Linked DNA regions of Homo sapiens: region 2 is linked to region 1. The links come from fine-mapping of genetic effects on gene expression. A gene starts in region 1. The other region holds a variant in brackets. All regions are shown on one strand. Distances are between the middles of the regions. Region 1 holds the start of CTSS (cathepsin S). Region 2 overlaps SETDB1 (SET domain bifurcated histone lysine methyltransferase 1).

Evidence for each region. PIP is the estimated chance that this variant, and not a neighbour inherited with it, causes the effect.
Region 2: its variant is the best candidate, but not a certain one, in a credible set for the expression of CTSS in whole blood (TOPMed, PIP 0.56).

The regions. Positions count from the first base shown.
Region 1 is chr1:150,763,329-150,767,722 of GRCh38, reverse strand. CTSS (cathepsin S) reads left to right here and starts at 1,945. Exons shown (of 8, transcript NM_004079.5): 1 at 1,945-2,025; 2 at 2,959-3,085. The coding sequence starts at 2,960. RefSeq lists cis regulatory regions at 1,999, 2,002 and enhancers at 1,927-2,071, 1,930-2,074, 3,005-3,054, 3,766-3,855.
Region 2 is chr1:150,961,736-150,966,129 of GRCh38, reverse strand. SETDB1 (SET domain bifurcated histone lysine methyltransferase 1) reads right to left here. Exons shown (of 22, transcript NM_001366418.1): 17 at 3,972-4,000; 18 at 3,411-3,543; 19 at 2,991-3,156; 20 at 2,389-2,600; 21 at 2,047-2,135; 22 at 1,393-1,883. The coding sequence ends at 1,766. It overlaps CERS2 (ceramide synthase 2), which reads left to right. Exons shown (of 11, transcript NM_022075.5): 11 at 1-944. Among named protein-coding and RNA genes, the nearest start is that of CERS2, 11 kb to the left of the region's middle. RefSeq lists cis regulatory regions at 641, 1,277 and enhancers at 568-712, 1,205-1,349. The variant A/G (reference allele first, on the strand shown) is at 1,703.

The sequences.
Region 1 (4,394 bases):
TTCATATAAAGAAGAGTTAACAAGTACAAAATACAAAGACAATGTTTAAAAAGAAGAACAAAGATAGGGTGGCCTAGATGACTTGCCTTACCATACGTGGAGACATATTACAAAGCTGTTTTAATTAAAACTGTGTGATACTGAAGTAGCAAAAGATAAAAAGAACAGCTTCATGAGCTCAGAAACTGACCTATCTATGTATGAGAATTTGGTGTACAATAGAGGTAGAATCAAAATTGGAAAACAAAGAAAATAAGCTCCCTACGTCATACCATACACAAAACTAAATTCCAGGTGAATTAAACACCTAAAAGCAGTAGCCATAGAAAAGATAAATAAAACACTCTCTGAAAGTATAAAAATAAGATGAGTGTATCTTTATTACATTTGGATGAGGAAAATTTTCTTATACAAAAACAGTATAGATTGATTATACGGAAAAGCTGAATAAAATGTTCTACCTCAACATAAAAAAATTTCATATAGAAAAACTCACTATAAACAAGACTAAAGGACAAGTGGAATTTCATAGGCTTATGCAAAGGAAGAAAAAATAAAATAAAAGACAAGTGGAAGACTAAGGGAGGATGTTTTTAAGGGTATATAACTGTCAAAGATTAGAAGCCAGAATATATTTTTAAAACACATACACCTTGGCCGGGCACGGTGGCTCACACCTGTAATCCCAGCACTTTGGGAGGCTGAGGCGGGTGGATCACGAGGTGAAGAGTTCAAGACCAGCCTGGCCAAGATGGTGAAACCCTGTCTCTACTAAAAATACAAAAATTAGCTGGACATGCTGGCAGGTGCCTGTAATCCCAGCTACTTGGGAGTCTGAGGCAGAGAATCGCTTGAACCTGGGAGGTGGATGTTGCAGTGAGCCAAGATCGCACCAATGCACTCCAGCATGGGAGACAAAGCACGACTCCGTCTCGGAAAACACACAACACACACACACACACACACCTCCCACAAATCACTAAGAAAATGCAACAATACAATAGAAAAATGAGCAAAAAAGATGAACAGGAAATTCACAGAAAATTCAAACGGTCAATAAATGTGTGAAAAGATCCTCAACCTCATTAGTAATTAGGAAAATGCAAATTTAAAAGATGATAGTTCGTCTTGCTCCCACCCCACCCAGGTAATCATTCTCAATTGGATATATTTGAGTGTATCCTTTTTTCCATGAATATACTAACACATACACACACACACACACACACACACGCATATTACTAAACTATACATATAGTATATATTAATAAAGACATTTTGAGTTTGATGAACGAAGGAATGGCTGAGTGAGAACCAGACAATATCAGATCATGAATGAGTTGTGTTAAAAGCAGTAAGACAGGTTTTCCTAGGAAATCATACAAGGAGCTGGGATTTGGGGAGCTTTATCTAAATCTCTTTATAACTAAATGTTTTCCATGTAAAAGTTGGTGTTTTTAAAATTCAATTTAATTTTTTTTTTGAGATAGGGTCTTGATATGTCATCCAGGCTGAAACACAGTGGCATAATCATGGCTCACTGCAGCCTTGTCCTCCTAGACTCAAGCAATTCTCCCACCTCACCCTCCCCCTCAGCTGGGACTACAAGCATGCACCACCATGCCCAGCTAATTAAAAAAAATTTTTTTGCAGAGACAGGGTCTCACTATATTGCCTAGGCTGGTCTTGAACTCCTGGCCTCAAGTGATCCTCCCGCCTCAGCCTCCCAAAGTGCTGGGATTATAGGCATGAGCCACTGGGCTCAGACAAGGGCTCTTCTTGATGGCTTACTGTATCCACTTTGTCCCCAAGACCATAGGGAAATGACTAGAGGTGACTGTACTAGCTAGATTTTAAATGAAACTGAAATGAAAGTTCACTTCCTCATTTTGAGTACCTCATGTGACAAGTTCCAATTTCTTTTCAAGTCAATTGAACTGAAATCTCCTTGTTGCTTTGAAATCTTAGAAGAGAGCCCACTAATTCAAGGACTCTTACTGTGGGAGCAACTGCTGGTTCTATCACGTATGTACTCTTTGTTCTTTTTCTCCCATTTGGTCTTCAAACACTCTGTGTTTGTAACTTGTTCTGCCTGCTAGGTTTTAAATCTTTGGTTTCAGGAAGTAAACTAAAAAATCGTGTCGTTCAATTTGCCTCTTCTCTATTTTTAAAAAGTTAATGTCTGCTTGAGCATCTAAGCATCTAAGTTGAGACTGAAACATGGCTTTCTTTGGAATATAATTTAAAGGCTTACATGTTTAAAATTCCAGATGTTTTCAATTAAAAAGAAATGGAAAAGAAAGTAGAATCCAGTTTGAGGGAGCTAGTCGCTGAATTTCTGTTGATGTCTCTTGAATTAAATACAGAAGTGGCATTTTAAAGAGTAGTTAATTGCCTCATTTGAAACAGATGTCTGATCATTAAAAAAAAAAAAACGTAAAAAGGAAAATTACCTACCTAAAGATGTGAAAGCAATAGATGAGAATTGTCTTTTAACTATCTGTAAAGACTGTGGATATTTAAACAGGTCAGTTAAGAAGAGCCCATGTATTCAAAAATTCAGGAGATAAACTGATTTTTCAGAGGTTTGTCTCTCTTAAGGATGATTTTTTTTTTTTTTTGAGAGAGAGAGAAAGAGATTTCCTTTGATTAGATTTGTTGGCAAATCCTGGAAAGTCCCTGTTTTCTAACCCTCTAGATGTGTTTGGTTTACCAGATATTGGGAAATTCCTGGAAATCACTTTTTAAAGTGCTACTAAGCATTGGAAGTAGTATTTCTGACATAAATCTGCAGCTGTTCCCTGTGACTATATATCCCAGGAATTTTCCTGTATAATTCTGTTTATAATAGTCTGTCCCTTTGATAGACTTTGCATTGTTATTTTCTCTTATGAAAACATGTGGTCACAACATATGCAGCTAATAGCAACACTTCCTATGTTACCTTTCCTTACACAGAATGAAACGGCTGGTTTGTGTGCTCTTGGTGTGCTCCTCTGCAGTGGCACAGTTGCATAAAGATCCTACCCTGGATCACCACTGGCATCTCTGGAAGAAAACCTATGGCAAACAATACAAGGAAAAGGTAGATTGGATTGCCACTCGAGCGATATGCTTTTAAAGGAGTACTGTTTTCTACCTCTTAAAATTGTGTTCTTACAGGCAGTGTTTTCAGTAAATATTTAAGCTGGGTGTGGTGGCTCGCGCCTGTAATCCTAGCCCTTTGGAAGGCCAAGGTGAGCGGATCACCTGAGGTCAGGAGTTCGAGACCAGCCTAGCCAACATGGCGAAACCCCATCTCTACTAAAAATACAAAAATTAGCTGGATGTGGTGGTGGGCGCCTGTAATCCCAGCTACTCGGGAGGCTGAGGCAAGAGAATCACTTGAGCCGGGAAGGCGGAGGTTGCAGTGAGCCAAGATTGTGCCATTGCATTCCAGCCTGGGTGACAGAGTGAGACTCCATCTCAAAAATAAATAAATAAATATTATGTACTTGTTTCTTGCCAGATACTGTTCTTGGTACCATACAGCAGGAATCAAAACAAAATTCCTGTTATGGAGCTTATATTATAGTGAGAGAGACAGGAAATAAGAAAATAAACAAGCAGATATGTAGTATGCTAGATGGTGATAAGTGTTGTAGATAAAAATAACAGAAGGCATGGAGAGTAGGAAGGGCCCTGGGTGGTGGTGGTGGTAAGAAGTCTATCTATATGACAGGAGGGTTAGGGAAGGCCTCACGGATAAGGGTGCCATTTGAGCAGAGAATTGATGGAAGCCAGGGAGCAAGCAAAATACATAATAGAGTGAAGGTCTCAGGCCAAGGGCAAATCAGCACAAGCTCCTGAGGAAGGGCCACATTTGGGATGGCTGAGGAGCGAAAAGGCGTTAATACCCACATAGTGTGGCCAGATATTGTTTCTTGACTATCACTTCCCATTTTGTACTTTTGTTTTTATTTCAAAGCACACTTGCTGATGTTAAGACCTTAACCCTACTGCTTTAAATAACTAAGTCCTGTAACTATGTAATATTTCTGTTTGTAAGCTAGCATCATATATTTATTTATTTGACATATTATTTTGTATAAAAATGACACTCTTAGGTCATACACTCTAAGTTTTATTTTTATTTATTTATAATTAAATAATAATTGTGTCTATTTATGGAGTACAATGTGATGTTATGATACAAATATACATTGCAGAATGATTAAATTAGGCTAATTAACCTATTCAGCACCTCACATACTTATCCTTTCATTGTGATAAGAACATTTAAAATCTACCCTTTCAGTAATTTTGACATATAAAATACATTATTATTATTATCTGTAGTCACCATGCTATGCAATAGATTGCTAGAATGTAGTCTTCTTGTCAAATGAAACTCT
Region 2 (4,394 bases), 200 kb before region 1:
TCCCAGATTAATGCATAAAGCCAAGGAACTACCCCGCTCCCTGCGCTATAGGGTCACTTTAAGCTCTGGGGAAAAAGGAGAAAGTGAGAGGAGAGTTCTCTGCATCCTCCCTCCTTGCTTGTCACCCAGTTGCCTTTAAACCAAATTCTAACCAGCCTATCCCCAGGTAGGGGGACGTTGGTTATATTCTGTTAGAGGGGGACGGTCGTATTTTCCTCCCTACCCGCCAAGTCATCCTTTCTACTGCTTTTGAGGCCCTCCCTCAGCTCTCTGTGGGTAGGGGTTACAATTCACATTCCTTATTCTGAGAATTTGGCCCCAGCTGTTTGCCTTTGACTCCCTGACCTCCAGAGCCAGGGTTGTGCCTTATTGTCCCATCTGTGGGCCTCATTCTGCCAAAGCTGGACCAAGGCTAACCTTTCTAAGCTCCCTAACTTGGGCCAGAAACCAAAGCTGAGCTTTTAACTTTCTCCCTCTATGACACAAATGAATTGAGGGTAGGAGGAGGGTGCACATAACCCTTACCCTACCTCTGCCAAAAAGTGGGGGCTGTACTGGGGACTGCTCGGATGATCTTTCTTAGTGCTACTTCTTTCAGCTGTCCCTGTAGCGACAGGTCTAAGATCTGACTGCCTCCTCCTTTCTCTGGCCTCTTCCCCCTTCCCTCTTCTCTTCAGCTAGGCTAGCTGGTTTGGAGTAGAATGGCAACTAATTCTAATTTTTATTTATTAAATATTTGGGGTTTTGGTTTTAAAGCCAGAATTACGGCTAGCACCTAGCATTTCAGCAGAGGGACCATTTTAGACCAAAATGTACTGTTAATGGGTTTTTTTTAAAAATTAAAAGATTAAATAAAAAATATTAAATAAAACATGGCAATAAGTGTCAGACTATTAGGAATTGAGAAGGGGGATCAACTAAATAAACGAAGAGAGTCTTTCTTATGCCTTCCTTGCAGTTATGTAATATTTTCTTTTTTAAATTTCACATGCATGTAATTTGAGCACTTTGAGGGGCCAAGGAGGGTGGATCACTAGAGGTCAGGAGTTTGAGACCAGCCTGGCCAACATGGCGAAACCCCATCTCTACTAAAAATACATCTAGCTGGGTGTGGTGGCGGGCGACTGTAATCTCAGCTACTTAGGAGGCTGAGGCAGGAGAATCACCTGAACCCGGGAGGCGGAGGCTGCAGTGAGTCGAGATTGCACCATTGCACTCCAGCCTGGGTGACAGAGCGAGAACTCCATCTAAAAAAATTCACATGCAAGAAGCAAAGGTAGACAAGGTAGAAGATGAATGACAGCAGCCCACAGGGGAGGATGGGGATAATACCTCACTGAAAGATCCAGAATTGGGAGTATCGGGCTGAGAGAGAGAAACAAAACCACAATCTTAGTTTTATCATATTGTTAAAAGACTTTCAAGAAATAATACAAACTGGAGATAGTAGATACACAGGCTCCATTCTAAGAACAAAGTCTGTTAGAAGCAGGAACACTTGGACAAATATGGGATGGGAGGGATGTCAGGCCGAGGTTAGAGTGGTGATCTCTCCCCACCCTTTAGGGCCTTTGGAGGTGGAGAAGGGATCCTGCCTGCTAGCACCACATTGGAAGGGATCATCTGGTCCAGAACCCCCATTTCTATCAACTAGGAGCTGGGGGGAGTAGCTAGCCCAGAGACTTCGGGTCAGGGTTCAACA[A/G]TCAGGAAGACCCAGTTCCTGAGGAAACGACAGTTCAAGAAGGGTTGGGAAGAAGGCTGTCCTCTAAAGAAGACGTCCTCTGCATTCAATGGCCCCACAGCAACAGAGTAGCTCCTTGCCTTCCACACTGCCCACCTCGTAGTTGTAGTCCCAAGTAAGTTCTGTCCCAGCCCGGATTCTTCTGAAGAGGAAGAAAAGGATGGTGTGTGGCAAAGACAGCAGATAACCCAGGCACTTGGGGTTACTGAATATGTAGGTGGAGTTGGATCATGAATGGAGGAGGGGCCCTTAGAACTTCAGTGGTCCTTGCCCCTCCCCAGTCATCCCCTTTCCTGACTCCTTACTTGCTGGCAAAGAAGGCCACCCAGGGGAAGCGAAGATCATGGGTATCCACGAAGACATTCTGGACAAACAGGTTGGGGCTGCAACTGTGCTGTAGGTTTAAGGACAGGATCAAATAAGAACCAGGGAAACTGAACCTGGCTTTGCAGGGAGAGTGAGAGTTGGAAGAAAAATGATGCCATCTGACCCTCCCCATTATAATAGATGCTTTGAAAGAAAGCTACCTCTTTAAGATCCTTTGAGATCAAGAGTTTATAACAAGAAAAGGGCTTATAGAGTATGTTAAAAGAAATCTGAGGACCATGGGATAATCCAGCATCTAGAGGTGGGGAGAGGGGTCTCACGTTGAGGTAGCGGCCCAGGTTGCCTTCAAGCTTGGCATCAATGATGTAGCAAGACTCCTCGCCATCATAGAATTGGCGTGTGTTCTTACGAACAGGTGCGCTCTCCCCCTTGTCCACAGAGGCCATGTTGGTTGATTTAATTGCAATCCCATGGGTTGATTTAAGAGCAAAGCCTCGGGTTGATTTTACTGCCACTTGACGCTTCATTGGACCTGGACAGGAGGGAGAATGGGGTCAGGACCCATCCCAACTCATGAACAGACATTCTATCATGAATGGACATTCTACCCCTATTTCTCTCCCAACATTGCAGCTGAGAAACACCAATAAGCTGGAACTCAAAGATCCTAAGTAGCAGGTTTTTTTTTCAAGCATAATTAGATCTGCTAGACAAAGGAGCTGAGGGGAAAGAGTAAAAAAATGGAAATGAGAGAGGATGTGTCAAACAATAGTTTAGCTTGGAGTCAGAAAGCCCTCCCAGAGATGCTCCAATTCTTAGGATCTGAATTTTTACCCACTACTTCTTTAGCTTCCTTAAAAAATGCTCTATCCCAAGTTTCTTACTATTTCTTCCCACCATTCCCAAAATTTTTCCAGGCTACCAGTCATGTTCTTCTTGTCCTCAAAGTCATCCCCTTCAGAGCCAGAGGATATGGTCTGGATATCATCACTGTCAACCGCTGTAGCCGAAGTCTGACCAGCAGTGGGCTTTCGGCTGGTCCCACTTTCCCCCTCACTTTCTGTGCTGCTGGACAGTGTCAGGACATCCTGGGGAAGCAGGAGGGTAAGAAGTAAGAGAAGTAAATGGGAAGGGCTCCTTTAAGTCCTTGCTGTTACCCACGGTTTGGCAGGAAAGGGCGGTGGCAAGAGGAAGATTAGATGCTGGATGAAAGAAAATAAGGCAGGAAGTCAAGGCTAAAGAAGTAGGAGAAGACCTAACAGTAATTATAGTGAAGGACTTGATGAGGTGACAATGGCCCATTTTCCTTTATTAGACTCTGAATAAGCTTGAGGTGACTTACATCAGGGTTGGACTGAGCAGAAGCCATGAGTCTTCGGCTTTGATGCATACTAGTCTTACTAGGTGGGCGGCGAAGTCCTTCAGGCTTCACAGGAGAAGGATTGTAACCGTAATTTCGAGAGCTTTCAGTAACTCTAATGGGAGGGGAAGGAATGAAGCCAACAGGTTACTGGCTGTTTCTTAGGCTTCTAGCCTAGGTTTGAGAGAAGGCAGATTTGGAGACAGGTCAAAAAGACAGGCACTGGGCTGGACACGGTAGCTCATGGCTGTAATCCCAGCACTTTGGGAGGCTGAGGATCCCCTTTGGGAGCATCGCTTGAGCCCAGGAGTTCAAGACCAGTCTGGGAAACATGGTGAAACCCCGTGTCTACAAAAAATACAAAAACTAGCCAGGCATGGTGGTGCACACCCGTAGTCCCAGCTACTAGGGAGGCTGAGGTGGGAGAATCTCTTGAGCCTGGGAGGGGGAGGTTGCAATGAGCTGAGATTACGCCACTGCACTCCAGCCTGGGTGACAAAGCAAGACTCTGTCTCAAAACAAAACAAAACAAAAGGCACTTACACTGACATCTTGTTTCGGTCGTCAGTGTCCTGGAAAAGAACAAGTGAAGGGTTAAATGCTTTCACAGCCTCGGGTAACAAGTCCAATAATCAGACTTCAAATGACCTCCACAGATAACATCAGCCAGTGACAGGTACACATTCTAAAGTGGGGTGGGTAAACCACTCTGCAACTTGACAGAAATCCTCACTACACTCCCTGGCTGGAGCCTTTAAGCCTTCTCAGTGATGGGGCTTAATGCTCATGGAAAACACCACGAGCAGGATTACATCAACCAGGGACAGTTTCACCATCTGTAATGTGGAAAGCAGCATAATCATCAAAGAGATACTTAAAATCAATTCTTGTTTCTCTACTTTAGTAGAAGGAAACAATGATGTGAATAACTTGAAACAGCATTTAACATTAAAAAATCACTTATAA